Linked DNA regions of Homo sapiens. The protein of the gene in region 1 purifies or fractionates together with the protein of each later gene. This does not show direct contact. Each region holds a gene or a part of one and is shown on either strand. Other genes may lie near its edges.

What was found. Proteins that work in one complex are often made in the same cells at the same time.
Region 2: the proteins of SIDT2 (region 1) and ADCY9 purify together in Homo sapiens (affinity purification with mass spectrometry; one large-scale study listed by BioGRID and IntAct). This does not show direct contact.
Region 3: the proteins of SIDT2 (region 1) and KITLG purify together in Homo sapiens (affinity purification with mass spectrometry; one large-scale study listed by BioGRID and IntAct). This does not show direct contact.
Region 4: the proteins of SIDT2 (region 1) and GHDC purify together in Homo sapiens (affinity purification with mass spectrometry; one large-scale study listed by BioGRID and IntAct). This does not show direct contact.

Annotation. Positions count from the first base shown.
Region 1 is NC_000011.10:117,188,039-117,193,185, reverse strand, and holds part of SIDT2 (SID1 transmembrane family member 2 precursor), read right to left. Parts: intron 4,479-5,147; coding exon 4,360-4,478; intron 4,018-4,359; coding exon 3,944-4,017; intron 3,852-3,943; coding exon 3,785-3,851; intron 3,235-3,784; coding exon 3,161-3,234; intron 3,021-3,160; coding exon 2,897-3,020; intron 2,564-2,896; coding exon 2,446-2,563; intron 1,309-2,445; coding exon 1,172-1,308; intron 933-1,171; coding exon 824-932; intron 613-823; coding exon 536-612; intron 367-535; coding exon 320-366; intron 34-319; coding exon 1-33.
Region 2 is NC_000016.10:3,965,699-3,970,845, forward strand, and holds part of ADCY9 (adenylate cyclase type 9), read right to left. Parts: intron 1,269-5,147; coding exon 77-1,268; 3' UTR 1-76. UniProt on the Homo sapiens protein: Adenylyl cyclase that catalyzes the formation of the signaling molecule cAMP in response to activation of G protein-coupled receptors.
Region 3 is NC_000012.12:88,513,728-88,518,874, reverse strand, and holds part of KITLG (kit ligand isoform b precursor), read left to right. Parts: intron 1-7; coding exon 8-178; intron 179-2,384; coding exon 2,385-2,541; intron 2,542-3,257; coding exon 3,258-3,341; intron 3,342-5,147. UniProt on the Homo sapiens protein: Ligand for the receptor-type protein-tyrosine kinase KIT. Plays an essential role in the regulation of cell survival and proliferation, hematopoiesis, stem cell maintenance, gametogenesis, mast cell development, migration and function, and in melanogenesis.
Region 4 is NC_000017.11:42,187,843-42,192,397, reverse strand, and holds the end of GHDC (GH3 domain-containing protein isoform 1 precursor), read left to right. Parts: coding exon 1-157; intron 158-1,187; coding exon 1,188-1,380; intron 1,381-1,494; coding exon 1,495-1,566; intron 1,567-1,640; coding exon 1,641-1,774; intron 1,775-2,038; coding exon of another isoform or gene 2,039-2,127; coding exon 2,128-2,213; intron 2,214-2,476; coding exon 2,477-2,695; 3' UTR 2,696-3,311; downstream 3,312-4,555.

The DNA.
Region 1 (5,147 bases):
TCATTGGGGCGCATGATAAGCCCATAGGCAGCCCTGGCAAGAGGGATGAAGGGTGGTGAAGCAGGAAGCCCAAGGGCAAGGAAGTGCTCTTCCTGCCCTGCCTAGGCATGTTTTATTATGATGTTGGGCTGTGTTCAGAAGCCCACAGAAGATTCTAGAAGCCCAGATGCCAAGAGAGAGAAGAGAGGCCAAGATCTCTCTTAGCCCCCATGTCTTATGCCCAACATTTGGAAGTTGTCCTTAGCCCCCAAGGCAGCCAGTGGCTGACCGAGTCCCCAGCTGTCCACCCAACCAGGCCACTACTGCTGACCATACTCACAGCGACCAGTTGATGACGTTGCCCATGACCAGCAGCACCATGCGGTCCTGGAGGGAAGCAGGGACACAGGGACTGAGGGCAGGGGCAGGGAGGGTGGTGGAAGAAGGCCCAGCCAGCTGGTCCCCACTCTCCCCTGGGTCCTCAGCCCAGCCCCACTCCCCCATCAGAGGGAAGAAAGGAGATGTGGAGAATGGAGCAGGGGAACCAGGCAGGTACCACGTAGAGCGGCCCGCTGCACTGCCGGATGCAGTCTGTGTAGAGCACGTGGAGGATGCGGCGGAAGATCCCCGAGTCTGCGAAGAGAAGGGAGTGGTGCTGACAGGCACGGGGCACCCTCCTTTGCTGGACCCCTGGGATGTGCCAGCTGAGGAGCCCAGGCCTGATCTAATTCCTCACCCAGTGACTCCAGGGCCCCCAAGACAGAACCTGAGCGTCTCCCGTGCGTCCGGGTTCCCAAGGCCCCCCAGACCCCTCCCCCAGGCCCTGCCCCGGGCGTGCCCTTACCCAGTTTCCACCGGCCCATGTAATAGAGCTGCGTGCTGAGGAGCAGGGTGGCGATGATGTGAATGATGGAGAAGACGATCCAGAACGCCGTGTTCCCTTTGCCAAAGACCTGTCGGGAGGCCACCAAGGGCAGCGGTGAGGGTGGAGAGGGAAGTGGCTCGGATGGCCCACCCTTCCTGGGGCTGGCTGCTCAGCCAGGCTGGGACTCTGAGAGGGGCCCAGGAAGGCATCTCAGGGAAGGAGCAGGAATCTCTCATGCAGGAGGTGGCGGAGGGTGTGCACTACGTGTCTGAACGCACGTGCACCTTTCCTATCATACAGGCTGAGCAGAGCAGGTCAGGCCCTCACCACGCCCAGCACAGAGAAGAAGATGACAATGGCCAGGCAGGCGTAGGCACTGTAGGCGCTGGCGTTGATGTCCGGGTGCCGCTTCTGGTAGAGCTTCAGCATGCAGAGTCCGGCGATCATGTACATGAACGATGTGTCTAGGATGAGGGACACGGAAGGGAGCTGCAGAAATGGCCACCAAGCCCCAGCAGAGAACTCCTGGCCCCAACAATCCCAGAGGAAGAGAGAGCCCTGGTGCCCCACCACGGCCATGGTGTGAGCTGGTGGCAGGGTGGCACTTGAACTTCAGTTCCTTAGTTGTACCTGCCACACCACACTGCCACCCCACTGGCTGTCACCCAGAGTCTGACATCTCCTGAAAACAGGGACAACTTGGTCTGTGTCTTAGTCTGTGAGCACCCTGAGATCAGGGACTCCCTTTTATTTTTTTGGAGACGGAGTCTCACTCTGTCGCCCAGGCTGGCGTGCAATGGTGGGATCTCGGCTCACTGCAACCTCCGCTTCCTGGGCTCAAGCAATTCTCCTGCCTCAGCCCCCTGAGTAGCTGAGATTACAGGCATGCACCACCACACCCAGCTAATCTTTGCATTTTTAGTAGAGATGGGGTTTCACCATGTTGGCCCGGCTGATCTCAAACTCCCCACCTTGGGCGATCCCCCCGCCTCAGCCTCCCAAAGTGCTAGGATTACAGGCATGAGCCACAGTGCCCAGCCAGGGCCCCCTTCTTTTTTTTTTTTTTGAGACGGAGTCTCGCTCTGTTGCCCAGGCTAGAGCGCAGGGCGTGATCTTGGCTCATTGCAAACTCTGCCTCCCGGATTCATGCCATTCTCCTGCCTCAGCCTCCCGAGCAGCTGGGACTACAGGCGCCTGCCACTGTGCCCGGCTAATTTTTTGTATTTTTAGTAGAGACGGGGTTTCACCATGTTAGCCAGGATGGTCTGGAGCTCCTGACCTCGTGATCCATCTGCCTCGGCCTCCCAAAGTGCTGGGATTACAGGCGTGAGCCACTGCACCCGGCCAGGGACCCCTTCTTAATTATACTGTTTTCTTCACTGCGGCACATGCCTTTACATAGGAATAGCTTGACAGATGAATGAAGCAGCATCTAGGTGCCCATGTTCCATAGGCTAGGATGTGTGCACACCCAGGCACGCCAGCCTTGGAGTTTCCTACAGGGGTGTCTTAGCGATCCCTGTGGGTGACTTGGGGATAGTGAAGGACTCAGGCAGGTCCCTGCTGTAGGTTGAGCCAGAAAAGAAGGACGCCCCACTCACCAAACTGGAAATTGGTATAGTTGGGGCACACATGATAGCAAGCACTGAGCAGCCCCTCCATCATCAGGGCTGTGCCCATGGCGTAGAAAAGCCCAAAGTGTTTGGGGATCCCACATTCCTGTTGGGGAGAGAGAGAAGGGAAGGGAGGGAGGAAGTGAGGCAGGAAGGGAAGAAGGGACCCAAAAGAGGGACCCTAAGAGGAGTGGAAGAGGAAAAGGGGTGGGGTATGTGTCGAGTGTGGGTGTGCAGGGGTGGGCTGGCCTGGGCAGGCTGGCAAGGGAGGGCAGGGCAGGGTGGGGCAGGCTGGGCTGGATAGGGTGGGCCAGACAGAACTGGGGAGGGGAGAGCTGGGGAAGGCAGGGCCAGGCCTGCCCAAAAGGGTGTCCTGGAGCCAAGGCTTGAGGTCTGTGCTGGAGCTGAGGCTGCGGCAGGCAGGCAGGTGCTCCCTTACCAGGGCACAGAGGTCATTGCGCAGCAGGGCCCGGTTGTGGTTGATCTCCCGTTGCAGGATGATGAGCAGGAAAAGCAGCCCCAGCAGGATGTACCCCAGGTTGCTGAGGATGTTGTTGAAGGCGCTAGAAGGGGCAACACAAGGCAGACTGCTTGGGACTCACACCCAGGCCTCTTCCCTAGCCCACGTGGGCATTGCAAAGCCCCAGGCCCTGCCCCATTTCACCCTTGGCCTGGACAAGGGGCCTCCCAGCATGACCCCCACCTGAGATTGCCCAGTGGGTGGGCGCAGAGGAAGTTGTAGTAGCAGATGTCCTGATTCCCTGTGACATTCACCACCTGTAGCAGGAGCAGGGACAGGGAGTGGGTCTGTCGTCACGCCCAACTCAGCCCACGCCCCGCCATCCGGGCCCCTTTGGCAAAAAACAGCAAGTGCCACCACAGCTAGCAGGTGGGAATACACAGCACCGCAGGCACGTGTTCCTTCTGAGAACATGGATGCCATGCAGCACAGTCGCTGTCCCCTCTCATTAGGCGTGGCTGAAAACCCTGAGGCATGACCGTGATGGAAGTTCTTGCCCCACGGGACAGAGAAAAGGGAAGGGAAACTGATGCTTACAAAGCCCCAGGACTTTGGTTTCATAATCCGCACAAGAAACCAGGGAGGGGCTATCTTTAGTGCGGGCTGCTCCCATTTTGCAGATGAAGAAACTGACACTCAGGGTTGGGGGGGTTATGTGATTTGCCCTGGGTCACTCGGCTGGGAAGGCAGAGCTGGGATCTGAACCCAGGTCCTGTGATGGAACACCAGGGCCCCAGGCTGGGAGGCTCTGCACTTTGGGGCGGTGTCCTAGGCTGTCGGAAAGGTGAACCTGCCCTGCCCTCTCACCGTCTGGTAGGTGATCACCAGCTGCACCACAGGAAGGGCATAGAAGACAGCAATGGTGGCAATGTTCCTGCGGAGCAGGAGGGCGGCAGTGAGGTGGGTGGCACCCAAGGCTGCCACACACCCACCAACAGCAGAGCCCCAGACACTCAGCCCACTCACCAGAAGTAGATCTGGTACTTTTTCCGCAGAACACGCTTGTCCTTCCGTGCCAGGTCAGCCACATAGAGGTATTGCTGGGGAGAAGCTGGAATCAGCCCCACTTACTGCTACTTGGGAGAAGCCCCCTCCCCCAGGTTAGAGGTGGACAAGAGGGGCCTCCCTCACACAGGGCCGAATTCAGGGGGGCAGGGTTCAAGGACATCCCACTGCTGCGGCCGCTTAGACCAAGAGGGTTTGGCCAATCAGGCCGGAAGGGGTTGGAGGTCAGGTTAGTTTCCCCGGCATCTGCCCTGCCCCAGCTGAGCCCCTTCCTTCTGCTTCCCTAAATGCCACGTCAGTGGGAACATGCTGGGGCGGGAACGCAGAATGTCCCTTTCTCAGGAAACGCCTGACCAGGCCAGGCCCACGGGTCAGACCTTGGTGCGAATGACATTCTTGTCGGAATCGATGTCGGTCAATGTGTCGTAGTCATCCTCCTCCACAGAGCTCATGGAGTCCACTCGGGGCCGAGTACCTACAGGTTCAAAGGAGCGGCCTGGAAAGGGCAGGGAGGGAGGGGTTGCACCGGTGGACACAAAACCCACAGTGGCCCTCGCCCATCTGAGGCAATTGTAACAATTATTAGGCAGTAGGGAAGAGGCAAATTGTGGGCTGGGCCTCAGAGTTGGGGTGGAAGTGGGCTCAGGAGCTGGGAGGAGACATCAGGTGCTCCTAAGTCCTGGGGGATGATGGTAGACTCTAGAAGAGGCCACCACACAGGGGCCGCTCTAGCTTTGCTCTGTTCCTGGCACCCCTCATGGGCTAGGGCTTCCCAGGCCAGGACACAAGGCAGACCCCAGGCAGCAGACACAAACAACAGGATTGAACTCGGCAAGTCATGCTGATTCAAGGGTGCCCAGCCCTGTGGGTTCTGAGAAGACACTGCCTTGGCTGCCACTGGGTTAAAGACCCAGTGGGCCTGGGGTGCAGAAAGAGCATTTCTCCTTTATCCAGAGGCCAGAATGTGACCCCCATGCCTGTGAGCCCTCCCCAAGCAGGCCAGGGAGTGAGGGCGCTGGCAACGCAGACGATAAACTAGATTGTCCAGCCTGGAGAGAGCGGAGGCGCCAGCCCGCCAGCCAAAGGAGCCTGTGCTCTGCTGCTATCTCAGAAGACACAAGAGCGGGCAATTACTGGAATTACATGGGGAAGCCATGCACATAGA
Region 2 (5,147 bases), on another chromosome or scaffold:
GAAAGCACAACAGCCAAATACAAATATTACTGTGTTTCGACAAACAGAGCACCTCGGGCAGCGGGTGGGCGCCGCCTCACACACTCTTTGAAACGTTGAGCTTGGTGAGTTCGTTGGCTTCTTCTATTCCTGTTTCGTCACAGTCGTCTTTCTCTATGGCTTTGCCAAATCGACCCCTTTCTTCGGCTTTGACGGGCTCCTTCCACGGTCTCTTGGGGGACAGGTGGGCATCCTTGGCCTGCGTGCTGCTGTCAGAACCCAGAGATGTCTTGTCCACATACTGGACAGAAGGCACCAGGTTGGCAATCTCGTCTGTGGGAGACCGTCCGATGCTGCCATCCACCTGGACGCGGATGTCTGGGGAGATGGACAGCTGGTGCTGTGGGATGACCCTGTGATCCGTGCACTTTGGGTACAGGTAGGTCTTCATCTGGCCTTTCCCCTTGACATTCACGGTCCCTCTGTAGTCGAAGTCATAGCCCATCTTGCTCAAGACGCGGTAGCTCTCTTCGCTCACCTGGATGCGGCACTCCACGCCGGTGGTGTCCATCCTGCTGGCGATGTTGACGGTGTCTCCCCAGATGTCGTACAGCAGCTTGGTGGTGCCGATGACCCCGGCCGTGAGGGGCCCATGGTTGAAGCCGACGCGGAGCTTGAAGTTGAACCACAGCATGTTGTTGTTGAAGTCGTCCACCACGCGCATCATCTCCTTGGCGAACTCGAACAGGATCTGCAGGTGCTCCTGCGGGTGGCTGCCGTCCTGGGCCTGCGCGGTGTTCAGCCCTGACGCCGCCATGTACGTGGCTCCGATGGTCTTGATCTTCTCGATGCTGCTGTAGTCCGGCTTGCTTAGGAGCTCGTCAAAGTCCCCGATGAGCTCGTTGAGGACCCGGTAGCACTCCTTGCCGCCCTCGTAGTTCTCCTCGTAGAACTCGCTGAAGTTGACGATGCTGGCGAAGATCACCCCTCCGCTGTCATGGTTCTTGGAGTAGGTCTGGGACACCTTCAGCTGCTCAGCCACGTGGTAGGGGATGATGTTCCTCAGCAGCCAGTCTGCCTGGTCCCGCATGCTCTGGATCTTGGTGCGGTGAAGATCCGCTTCCACGTCTCCGTGGTAGTGGAGGCGGTAGCTGACTTCAAATTCGCGATTCAGGAACCAGACCAACAAGAGCAGGAGAAAGAAGACGAGAACCACCTCCTGGCCGATGAGGCTGGCGGGCCGCCGGAGGTCACGCGGCACCGAACTATTGCACGGGTTCCTCTCGGAACTGGAGAGCAAAGACACGGGAAAGGGAGAGGTTACTGCTCGGCGCTTCCAAGCTCAGAACAGCCCCGCTAGCTACGCAAAGCTTTGTTGAGTCCAGGCCTTCAACAACCTGAAGCTGTCAAGCTGCCCATTCCTGGTTTGGGCTGGCTGAAGGTATGGAGGGATAAAGACTAACTTTTGAAACTGATTGATTTCATTTTGTTAAATAGAGGTGGGGTCTCACTGTGTTGCCCAGGCTGGTCTTGCACTCCTGGGCTCAAGCAATTTTCCTGCCTTGGCCTCCCAAAGTGCTGGAATTACAGGCGTGAGCTGCTGTGCCCAGCCCTGTAACTAACATCTTTAGTAAGTGCTTGGTAATCGTTTTTCTTTTCTTTTTCTTTTTCTTTTTTTTTAGAAGTCTTTAGCTTCTTTCAAAAATCTTTTCTTTTCTCTCTCTCCTTTGTTTTTTTAGAGACATGGTTGTTGTCCAGGCTGGAGTGCAATGGCACAATCATGGCTCACTGCAGCCTTAAACTCCTGGGCTCAAACGATCCTCCTGCCCAGCCTCCTAAGTAGCTGGGATTACACGCATGTACCACCACACCTAGCTAATTAAAAAATTTTTTTTTTGAAGAGACAGGGTCTTGCTGGTTGCCAAGGCTGGTCTTAAACTCGTAACTTCAAGCCATCCTCCCACCTTGGCCTTCCAAAGTGCTGGGATTACAGGCTTGAACTGTGCTTGGCCTAACATCTTTTTTTTTTTTTTTTTTTAAGATTGAGTCTTGCTCTGTTGCCCAGGCTAGAGTGCAGTGGTGCGATCTTGGCTCACTGCACCCTCTGCTTCCTGAGTTCAAGTGATCCTCCTGCCTCAGCCTCCTGAATAGCTGGGACTATAGGTGTGTGCCACCATGCCTGGCTAATTTTTGTATTTTTAGTAGAGACAGGGTTTCATCATGTTGGCCAGGCTGGTCTCAAACTCCTGATCTCAAAGTGATCAGCTTGCCTTAAAGTGCTGGGATTACAGGTGTGAGCCACTGCACCCGGCTTTTTGCTGAATGAACTTTTTGAAAGTAAGTTGCTGACATGGCACTTCAGCTCTAAATATTTCAGCATGTATCTCCTAAGAATAAGGATATTTCCCTATGTAACTACAATATCATCATCATACCCAAGAAATTTAACATTCTCTGATATATTTGGTTCTTAGATTTCTTTTTTTTTGAGACGGAGTTTTGCTCTTGTTGCTGGTGAGATCTTGGCTCACTACAACCTCCGCCTCCCGGGTTCAAGTGATTCTCCTGCCTCAGCCTCCCCAGTAGCTGGGTTCACAGACATGTGCCACCACACCCAGCTAATTTTGTATTTTTAGTAGAGACGGGGTTTCTCCATGTTGGTCAGGCTTGTCTCAAACTCCCGACCTCAGGTGATCCGCCCACCTCAGCCTCCCAAAGTGCTGGGATTACAGGTGTGAGCCACCGCGCCTGGCCTTGGTTCTTAGATTTCTAATCCAATAAACTTATCATTTTACAAATAGCTTTTATGAGTTCTATACTCTCTACCTGTATAAAAAAGTTTGACAAGACGCCATCTCCCCTGATTCTGGGTTAGTTCTTTTTGCCGAAATCACTCAGGACAATGCTAACATCTGAACCAGTGCCATTATTTTCTCATGGCTGTGCAGTGTTCCAGCACTCGGAAATTCTGTAATTTAGCCAGATTCCCCCTGATGGAACTGGGCCCGAGTCTGTCTTTTCTTACCACAAACAGTGTCACAGGGAATATTCCCCTACCCCTATCTTTGTGCGTATGGAAGTGCTGAGTCATTTTAAATATTGCACATTTAGAATTTCCTTAGAAATTTCCAAATTGCCCTTCTAAACAAGGCTGAACCAGTTTCTGCTTTTTTTTTTCTTTTTTTTGAGAAGGAGTCTCGCTTTGTTGCCCAGGTTAAAGTGCAGTGGCGTGATCTCGCCTCACCACAAACTCCGCCTCCTGGGTTCAAGCAATTCTCCTGCTTCAGCCTTCTGTGTAGCTCGGACTACAGGTGCACGCCACCATGCCCAGATTATTTTTGTACTTTTACTAGAGACAGGTTGGTCTCAAACTCGTGACCTCGTGATCCACCCGCCTCGGCCTCCCAAAGTGCTGGGATCACAGGCGTGAGCCACCGCGCCCAGTCTCTGCTCCCTTTGATAACTGAGCCTGCTTTCAGCGGGGCTGTCTCCACTTCAGTGGCACTGATGGAGACAGCCATGGTCAGGGGGCTGCAGATGAGTGGTGAGTAGCACAATTTCTTTTTTTCTTTTTCTTTTTTCTTTTTTGAGACAGAGTCTCACTCTCTAGCCCGGGCTGGCATGCAGTGGTGTGATCTCAGCTCACTGCAACCTCCACCTCCTGGGCTCAACGATTCTTGCGGCCCAGCCTCCTGAGTAGTGTGCGCCACCAGGCCCAGCTAATTTTTGTATTTTTTTTTTGGTAGAAACGGGGTTTCACCATGTTGGCTGGGCTGGTCTCAAACTCCTGACCTAAAGTGATCTGCCCGCCTCGACCTCCCAAAGTGCTGGGATTACAGGTGTGAGCCACCACACCTGGCTGAGTAGCACAATTTCTTAAAGTTTGTTTGAAATATATATATATATATATATATATATATATATATATATATGTATTTTTTTTTTTTTTTAAGAAGAGACAGGGTCTGTCTCTGTCATCCAAGCTGGACTGCAGTGGTGCGATCCTAGCTCACTGCAGCTTTGACCTCCCAGGCTAAAGCGATCCTCCCGCCTCAGCCTCCAGATTAGCTGGGACTACAGGCACACACCACCACACCTGGCTAATTTTTTGAACTTTTTGTAGAGATGAGGTCTTACTATGTTGCCCAGGCTGGTCTCAAACTCCTGGGTTCAAACTGTTCTGCTTCTGCCTCCCCAGTGTGCTGGAATACATTTTTTCCCATTTAAAAATACTACATACTCATCATAGAAAATGTAGAAAAAAATAGACAAAAAAGATTTGTCCATCGTCCTGCCATCCAGAGGCAATCACTATTAACATTTGTTGAACTGCATTCTAGTCTTTTTCTTTTTTACAACACCGTGACTGTTCTGTTCATGTAAATGCTGTACCCTGATGCATTCCTCCCGCGCACAGAGTAGGCCAGTTGATTTGATGCAATAATGGGCTTGGTCACTATATACTTATATATGCGACTGGCGGATCCACAGTTTAGACAGCTCCATCACACTGGAAAGCTCAATTCTTTTTCTTTTAGAGACAGGGTCTCGCCATCTTGCCCAGGCTGGTCTTGAACTCCTGAGCTCAACCAATCTGCCTGCCTTAGCCTCCCCAAGTGCTGGGATTACAGGGATGAGCCACCACGCCTGGCCAAAACTCAATTCTTCTTTTTTCTTTCTTGCTCTGTTGCCCTGGCTGGAGTGCAATGGCGCGACCTTGGCTCACTGCAACCTCCGCTTCCAGGTTCAAGTGATTCTCTTGCCTCAGCCTCCCGAGTAGCTGGGACTACAGGTGTGCGCCACCATACTTGGCTAATTTTTGTATTTTTTAGTAGAGACAGGGTTTCACCATGTTGACCAGGTTGGTCTGGAACTCCTGACCTCAGGTGATCCACCCGCCTTGGCCTCCCAAAGTGCTGGGATTACAGGCACGAGCCACCATGCCCGGCCAAAAGCTCAGTCCTTTAATCAAAGTGTCTAATAAGTTTCACTAACTGTTCTTGGGATATTAAAAAACAATGAGCTTGACCTGTGTGGCCATCACGGCCCTCTGCGAAGCACAACCGCCAAAAGCCCTGGCCGTGGGTGGAACAGAACCCCTGGGCCCCATCCTGGCTGGACCGCGGGGGAGTTTCAGAATCTTGGGTAAGCCATGCCATCTTTCTGGG
Region 3 (5,147 bases), on another chromosome or scaffold:
CTTGCAGCCAAGTCATTGTTGGATAAGCGAGATGGTAGTACAATTGTCAGACAGCTTGACTGATCTTCTGGACAAGTTTTCAAATATTTCTGAAGGCTTGAGTAATTATTCCATCATAGACAAACTTGTGAATATAGTGGATGACCTTGTGGAGTGCGTGAAAGAAAACTCATCTAAGGTAACTTTGTGTTCATTGGGATTATTTTTCATTACGCTTCTCTAAAAACCCATGCTTCTTGGTGCTGTTGGGGAAAATGAGGCACCTTTATTTATGATATTTTGATTGTATAAACTTCAAATTTAAAAATCTTGTTCAGATGAGCAAAGAAAACAAGTATTTGCAGTTATACTGCAATACTGAAGTGCACATTCAAACTTAAATGTTGTCATCTAATACAAAAATAAAACTTATTTACATTACAATGCAAAATCAGTCCTGCCTTTATCTTTATTCTTCATAAGTGAAGTCCTTGAAACCTTTCTATTAAGTTACAAGTGTTCATTTAAATGGAAAATTGTCTGTAATAAACACATATCCTTTTATGCATAATGTAATCACCCCATAGGTCACAGCAAAGGAATACATTTTGGCTCCTCAAAGTCATTGGATAACTGATCATCACCAACTTCAGGATATGGGCATGACATATGGAATAGGCAATGTACTCCAGAAAATAAGAGTGAGATATTGGAGTTTAAATTCTGGCTCTGTCGCTAATGAGTTCTGTGAGCGTAACTTCTTTGTACCTCACTTTCTTTATCTTTAAAATGGGGGCAATGCCAGAATTCATCTAACAGGGTCGACGTTAGGTTATTTGCCATGAGTACTTTAACACCCTACCTAGCAAAATAAATATTAATAAAATTTGATGTTTTTTCATCACACTGTGTCTATAGCAAAATCATGCTTAGGAGACCTGATTTGGTATACAGTTCAAATGGCCAAAGATTAGCTTAGGAGACTTATGTAAGTTTAAATTCAAAGTTTTAAGCAGGATTCTGTACCTTAATACCTAAATGCTTTTTCCTGTGTCCCATCTAAATTCCAGCTATTCTGTAAGACCCAACTTCAATCCCATTTGTACTATCCTATCTTATAATTCTTACCATACTAATAATCCAATCACTACCTTTAATCTTTGTATTATTTTCTAATTTCCAAAGTCAGAATGTGGTGTTAACCACTCTTTCATATTACTACTGCATATAGTGTGCCAATGGCATTCAAAAGAAGTAGAGATCACAAAAAGTAGAGTGCATCACACAAGGTGTCACAAAGGAAATAACATGTGCATTAGAGCCTTAAAGATGAGTTAGGTAAATGAGTTAGGTCAATGGTGATGTTGGGAAGAACACTGCAAACAACAAAGAATGTGCATTTACTAATCATGGCACTTTGGTGGGAACCCAGGAGATTACCAATTATATTTCTCAGTTGTTTTGGAGATTGAGTTACTGTATATAAAGCACTTAGAATAGTCCATAGTAAGTAACAGATAGTTGTTTATTTTGGTTACCTACTTTTCTTTATAATCCATTATGTATCCCTACAACATAGCTTTGATTTGCTTTGGGGAATTTTATATTAATTTTATATCAATTAATCATACCATTTTTATTATTTTGGGACTTGCCTCTTTCACTCAGCTTTAGGTTTAGAAGATGTATCCACTTTAAAGCATATAGCTGTAGTTAACCTTCTCTTGAATTGAACTCCACTAATTCAATATATCACTAGTTATTAAGCCACTCTGTCTGGATTGACATAAGTGATACAGATATTGCTGCAAAAAAACTTTTTTATATGTCTGATGGTATATATGTGCAATAGTTTCAGTAGGTTATTTACCTGAGAATGGAATTTCTGAGTCACAGGATGGTCACATGTCTAACTTTACTGGATAATATCAAATGTACCAACTTACATTATCTCAGCAGTATGTAAGAGTTCCCTTGCCAATATTTAGTATCATCTGACTTTCTAATTTTTGGATATTAGAGCATGCATTATGGTGTGGTTTTTTTTTTTTTTTTCTAAAGACTGGAAGTTCTTGTAATGGAGGGGTCTTTTAAAAATAAACCCTCATGTTTTTAATGAGCATCTCTAAAGAAAAATATCCCCAGCTTGTTTTTAAGGTTATTTATTTTATTTTATTTTTTGCCATGACATTGTGTTCACTGCCCCAGATTCAACTTGTGATCCCACTGGGATCACTACCCTGCATTACCAATCTGAATTACATACGTTAAAACAGCCATCTAAAAGTGCTAGTTGTAAGAGTCTAAATACTTGAATCTTTGAGAGACATATTTATAGTCCATTATCTTCACCTCAGTTAAGTCTGAAGACTATTTGAAAAATGTAATCCTATTTTTTCTTCTAGGATCTAAAAAAATCATTCAAGAGCCCAGAACCCAGGCTCTTTACTCCTGAAGAATTCTTTAGAATTTTTAATAGATCCATTGATGCCTTCAAGGACTTTGTAGTGGCATCTGAAACTAGTGATTGTGTGGTTTCTTCAACATTAAGTCCTGAGAAAGGTAAGACATGTAAGCATTTCCAGTTCAAATGTAAACAACAAACTTAAATCTTCCCTATGTAGTAAGAATCTACCTCTGTGTTAAGCTGTAGCAAGATACATGCATGTACGTCTAATAAAAAAGCAGATATCAATAGCACAGAAGAAACTAATGATTGTAGATTTGTGGGTTTCTAACCCAAAGCAATATTCATCAGTTTCAAATTAGTGAGCTGTTTGTGAGTAAACAATATATGAGATGGCCACTCATACCTTTTCTCATCTAATATTTGCCAGTAATTACAATTATATTATTCTGTACCTCCAGTCTACTTAATGGTCCTTCTCAAATTTTTTCTTAAGGATCTAACTCTAAGTCACAAATTCTGATCCTCCCCAGTTACTCTGTATTAAGACTCTTTTTTCCCTTCACTGGGTCCCTATAATACAAACCTGGATTCATTGCTTTCTTTTTTTAATGAGAAATTACCATCAATGTGTCATTATTTGTATTTATTAACATATTTATTCAATAAGTATTTGTTCTACAAGGTGATAATGGTGGATTTCTTAGTAAAATAGAATAGCAGGACCCAGTATGAAATAAATAGGATCTGAATACTCTAGATTTGGGAAGCAGACCTGGCAAGTAATCTGGTATTGCACTTCACCTTTCAGGGACTCTATAACTCATACAAATCACCATATAACACTGACACATTATTGCTTTCTATTTAGATTCCAGAGTCAGTGTCACAAAACCATTTATGTTACCCCCTGTTGCAGCCAGCTCCCTTAGGAATGACAGCAGTAGCAGTAATAGTAAGTACATATATCTGATTTAATGCATGCATGGCTCCAATTAGCACCTATAGGAGTATTGCATGGGCTTTCAAGGAAACTTCTACATTTATTATTATTGATACTGTTCTGTTACTGTTATTCCTTTTATGGTCTTCTTGAGACTTAAGTTTGTAGAATTAAATTTCCCTAGAGCTGGAGATAATGTTTAGAGAATTAGGCCAATAAATTTTCTGCTGAGGTTATTTTAAATAAGACATAAAATTAATTTTAGAAATATGATTTATGCCTTTTGTTGAATCATTAACATATATTCTGTGTGGAATGTGTCTGACAAAAACGGAAGTTTAAAATTAAGTGTATAAATGCTGGTTGTTAACATATATTCTGTGTGGAATGTGTCTGACAAAAACGGAAGTTTAATTGTATAAATGCTGGTTGTATAGAATTCCAAAGATATTTTCAGATTTGTGTATATCAGTATTTACTATTGCGCATTTGGAAATTTGATGATTTTGTTATTTTACCACAGAATTATATGCTTGATGAGAATAGGCTTATTTTTCTGAAATTTCTGTCCTCTTTTGCCAAGAACCCAATTTTCTTTGAAAATCCAGACAAAGGTCATTATAAAGTTTATTGTATTTACTAAATACTCTCTAGCCTCATGGAAGGTGCAGGAAGAATAAAAACCATCTTGTGATCTAGGCTAAAAAAGTCATCCCTTAGGACTTATAAATGGGGCACTGTCATTTGTTCAGGGACTTAGAAGACCTATCTGTGAAAAGAAGTAATCAATTTATTACTAATTCATAATAGCTTGTTACAATGCAGAACATTTAAAAAAACTCTAAAATACAATTTACTTATTTTGGAATTTTTTGCCACCAAAACCTGACCTGAAGTGATTTGAGGCTATTTATAGTCTATTTATCTTTCTAAAAGTGAATATATATTTTACTAATGAAATATTAATGTATTTGATTACAGAATGCTACCCAGGATTCACTGGGGATAGTATATGTTATACATTATGTGCAGGACAGAATCTTCTGAAACCTAAAATTCTAAATTACGTAGCATATCAGTTCTAAAATGTGTCAAAAAGGGACTAGAGCCCTGTTTGTGTGTTAGTCAATTAAGGGTTTTCTTACCAACTATGGATTTTATTAACATTTTCAAAGGAGCAACTTTTGTCTTCTTAAATTCTCTGCTTATATTTCATTGATTTCTAATCTTTATTATTTCCTTCCATTTGCTTTGTGTTTCATTTACTCCACTTTTTCTAGCTTTTCGAAGTGGAAAAATTAGATCATTGATTTTAAACTATTTTTGCTAATTACAAGCACTTAAAGGTATAAATTTTCTTAAATACACTGCTTTAGCTGCACCTCACACATTTTTGTGTTGTGATTTTATTATTTTTCTAAATATTTGTCAACTGTGATTTCTTCTTTGATTCATGGATAATATAAAAGTGCGTTGTTTGATGTCAAAAAGTTTGAGATTTTCCTATATATCTTATTGTTACTAGTCTATGAATTTTGTTGTCAGAAAACATACTCTATAATTTTTTTGAAATGTACTGAAACTATTTTATGTATGTTATTTAACTGTTGAATGCAGCATTCAAATTTGGCCAAAATGGTTGATAGTGTTGTTTATATCTTCCCTTCCTTATTAAGCTTTTTGTCTAATTTTTATTAATTATTGAGAAAAGGGAATTGAAAATATTAACTTTTGATTGTGGATTTGTCTGATTTTCCATTTGGTTTTGGGTTTTTTGCTTCATATATTTTAAAGCTTTATTATTATGGGCTTATACAT
Region 4 (4,555 bases), on another chromosome or scaffold:
GAGCAGGGGCCACGGGGACTGGCCCTTCGGCTCTGGCCAAAGCTGCAGGTGGTGGTGACTCTGGATGCAGGAGGCCAGGCCGAGGCTGTGGCTGCCCTCGGGGCCTTGTGGTGCCAAGGACTAGCCTTCTTCTCTCCTGCTTATGCTGCCTCGGGAGGTCAGTGGGACTCAAGGGCAGTGAGGTGGGGGCAACGGTCAGTGGTCACATGACAAGCAGCCATGCATTGGGCCCTACATAATCATCTCATTTAATCCTCCCCAACAAGCTGCATGCTAGGGCCAGCAGCCTCCTTTTACAAGTGAAGAAATTCAGGCTCTCTAGGTTAAGAGTCTTGTAGCTGGGTGCAGTGGCTCACGCCTGTAATCCCAGCACTTTGGGAGGCCAAGGTGGATGGATCGTTGAGGTCAGGAGTTCCAGACCAGCCTGGCCAACATGGCGAAACCCCATCTCTACTAAAAATACAAAAACTAGCGGAGTATGGTGGTGCACGCCTATAATCCCAGCTACCTGGGAGGCTGAGGCGGGAGGATTGCTTAAACCTTGGAGGCAGAAATTATAGTGAGCTGAGATCGCGCCATTGCACTCCAGCCTGGGTGACAGAGCAAGACCCTGTCTCAAAAAAAAAAAAAAAAAAAAAAGGCCGGGGCAGTGGCTCACGGGTGTAATCCCAGCACTTTGGGAGAGGCTGAGGTGGGTGGATCACCTGAAGTTAGGAGTTTAAGACCAGCCTGGCCAATGTGGTGAAACCCTGTCTCTACTAAAAATACAAAAATTAGCCAGGTGTGGTGGCAGGCGCCTGTAATCTCAGCTACTCAGGAGGCTCAGGCAGGAGAATCACTTGAACCCAGGAATCACTGAATCACTGAGCCGAGATCGCACCACTGCACTCCAGCCTAGGTGACAGAGCGAGACTCTGTCTCAAAAAAAAAAAGAGTCTTGCACAAATTCATGTGGCACCAGGATTCACTCCCAAGTCTGCCCCCTCCAGGACCACAGCACTCTGCCTCTTTCCAGTGAGGGCCTAAGAGGCAGCCCGCTGAGGCTGGGGGAGCCAGGAAGGATGTGGTGGAAGGGCAGCAGGAGGATCAGGTGCTCAGAGGATCAGGCCTGGGATCCAGGAGGGGCTATTGCCTGGCAGAAAGCGATGGCACCAGCAGACGCTGAGGAGGCTGCTTTGCTTTCACAGGGGTGCTGGGCCTAAACCTACAGCCAGAGCAGCCCCATGGGCTCTACCTTCTGCCCCCTGGGGCCCCCTTTATCGAGCTGCTCCCAGTCAAGGAAGGCACCCAGGAGGAAGCTGCCTCCACCCTCCTTTTGGCCGAGGCCCAGCAGGGCAAGGAGTATGAGCTGGTGCTGACGGACCGCGCCAGCCTCACCAGGTGATCAGCTGCACAGCCCCTGCTACCTGGGGCCCTATGGGACCGTGCTGGGGGCCTGGGGCATGAGCTCAGAAGACCTTGGGCCCGACCTCACTCCCACTTGCACCCCATCAGGTGCCGCCTGGGTGATGTGGTGCGAGTGGTTGGTGCCTACAATCAGTGTCCAGTCGTCAGGTTCATCTGCAGGTAGGTGACCCCGGGGAGCTGAAGGGCCATCCTTGTGTCCTGGGCTCCACTGCCTCTCCCTTCCTCCTCTTCAGGCTGGACCAGACCCTGAGTGTGCGAGGGGAAGATATTGGTGAAGACCTGTTCTCTGAGGCCCTGGGCCGGGCAGTGGGGCAGTGGGCGGGGGCCAAGCTGCTGGACCATGGCTGTGTGGAGAGCAGCATTCTGGGTGAGCCTCCCCACCGGCTCCTGCCTACCATCCTTGAGCTACCCTTCAACTCCTACCTCCCCTGCCAGGGGACTGCTAGGAAAGAGATAAGCCTCCTTTACTACTCCTACAAAAGTCCTTCTCTGCATCTAACTCTCATCCATCCTGCTGCAGTCTCTACCCATTTTCTTTCCTGATCTGTCTCCTATTTAGGATCAAGCTCTAGGTTCCTCTCCATTTACCCCACTCCCCACCAAGAAACTCTTTTTTCCCTATGAATCTCAGAGTGGGGAAGAACAGATAGGGCAGAGGACACTAGACTTGGCAGCTGCCCATTCACCGGAAGTATGTGTGCACATGGGGTCTATTCACAGATTCCTCTGCGGGCTCTGCTCCCCACTACGAGGTGTTTGTGGCGCTGAGGGGGCTGAGGAATCTGTCAGAGGAAAATCGAGACAAGGTAAAGGAGACGAGGACAGGGTCTGACTGTAGACCCCTTCACTCTGCACACTCCCAGGGTGCCATGGAGATCAGGGCTGATGGGAAGGAGAGGGGTGGCGGAGGAGAAGCTCCCTGGGGCTCTGGGAGGGGAGGGCTAAGTCCCACAGACACACACCTGTCCACACAAAACTTCTAAACACATGTAGCCTGGGCACAGCCACACACGCCTCGTGTGCACACTCACAGTCACACACCAGCTCACTCAGGCTGTTCTGTTCCCAGCTGGACCACTGCCTTCAGGAAGCCTCTCCCCGCTACAAGTCCCTGCGGTTCTGGGGCAGCGTGGGCCCTGCCAGAGTCCACCTGGTGGGGCAGGGAGCCTTCCGAGCACTCCGGGCAGCCCTCGCTGCCTGCCCCTCCTCCCCCTTCCCCCCTGCGATGCCCCGGGTCCTTCGGCACAGGCACCTGGCCCAGTGTCTGCAGGAGAGGGTGGTGTCCTGAGTCAAGTCCTGCCCCACCGCCCAGCTCCCCCCAGAGGCCACCTCGCCCCTCCCTCTGGGACCTCTCCGGATGGGGAGTCCTTGGCCAGGGTCTCTGACTCTGTGTCACCTGACATTTGCCCATGAGAGCCGCTGGGCCTTAGAGAGGCCTTGGCCCAGCTGACCGGTTCTGAAGTATGGGCCTCCGGGGTTAGCAGATGCCAGCAGTGCCTGCCCGTGTCCCCATGTCCCGGCATGAAGGACACTGCTAGAGAGTTACCATGCACACCGATGGTTTCCTGTATCACAGCCCAAAGAGGTTCTCTGGTGGCCACAGCTGTGTGCTCAGTCAGTGCACTGGGCAAGCTAGAAGTGTTGGGGGGTTAATGTCCCCAGGAGCAGCAACCCTGAGTCAATAAGGAGCAGGACCTCAGCTTCATTGTCCTTGAGCAGGACAATTCTGAAGTGTATTCTACATAAACTCTCAGAGGATGCCCAGCAGGATGGAGTCCCAGTTGCCCGCAGCAGTAACCCACTCATTCATGTACTTCCTGCGGGGGCTCTCCCTTCCCTCTCTTCCCCACTCCCCCGCCTTGGGCTTCCTGGGATGGCTCCCAAATAAACCTCTTGCACCCAGATTCTTGCCTCAGGGTCTGCTTTGGGGAAACGGGAGTGGACCCCGGCCCAGCCATTCCCCCACTGAGCTCCAGGACTTTCCCCCAACATTCTGCTCTGGGCCTGGCAAGGCTGCATGCGCACACAGGAGCCTTGGAGGACTCGTGGCACATCCTAGGCCAGCACCCACAAACCACTTCTGCGGTGGGGAAGGGAGAGCTATTACTTCACATCATAAGGCATCGCCGCAGGAAGCAACTCCGGAGACCATCTGGGTTCACTGTTCCATACTAATGAGGAAACGCAGCCTCCACAAGGTTGTAGAGGCTAAAATAAAAGAAAGAAAGAAACTGGGCTAGATTTTGGCTTCCTTCCCTCCCACTGCCTGGACTGGAGTTTTAAGGTTTTCCATCTTGGAGGCTGATGGGAGGGGCAGACCTCAGCTCCTCCTCAGTAGAGGCAGCACTGGATCCAGATGCCTCTGAATAGCTTCTCCATTCCATGTCCCACACCCAGGTCCTGGCTGCATACCCACCCGGCCCCCACCTCCGCCTGTCACTCCATCCTGTTAAAATCTTCCTGTGAAGCTGGGCACAGTGGCATGGGCCTATAGTCCCAGCTACTCAAGAGGCTGCGGTGGAAGGATGGTTCATGCCCAGGAGTTCAAGACCAGCCTGGGCAACACAGCGAGACCATCTCGGGAAAAAAAAACAAAAAAAAAAACCTCCCATGGTGGCCCCCATCGCCCACAGGATTAAGACCAATCAATTTGGCCTATTAGACCCTTTGACCTTGGCCCTCACCTACATGTGCAGCTACCTCTCTCCCCTTGCTTGAAAGAAGGCCTGGACTAAGGACCACGCCTCACCTCCCATCTAAGGGTTGTTAAGCACTGTCAACTCCAGGAGTTTGCTCAAGTTGTCCCTTCTATGTAATGCCCTCTATCCCGCTGCCCCTGATGTAAACTAGCTTTCATGCAAGGCCTTTGAGGACCCCCTACCAGGCCCACCCCAGGCAGAGTGACTGGCTCAGCTTTGCTCATGTGGGCAGTAGTCCTCTCCTTCACTGAACTATCATTATGCCTGAACTGCCTCCCACCTGGAATATGAGTTCCTTGGAAACTGGGCTAGATCCTGTGCACAATTGCCCCCATGCCCAGTGCCTGGTGTGGCATGCAGCAGGAGCTCAATAAAGAGGTTGTAGGCCAGGTGCCATGGCTCATGCCTGTAATCCCAGCACTTTAGGAGGTCGAGGCAGTCAGATCACC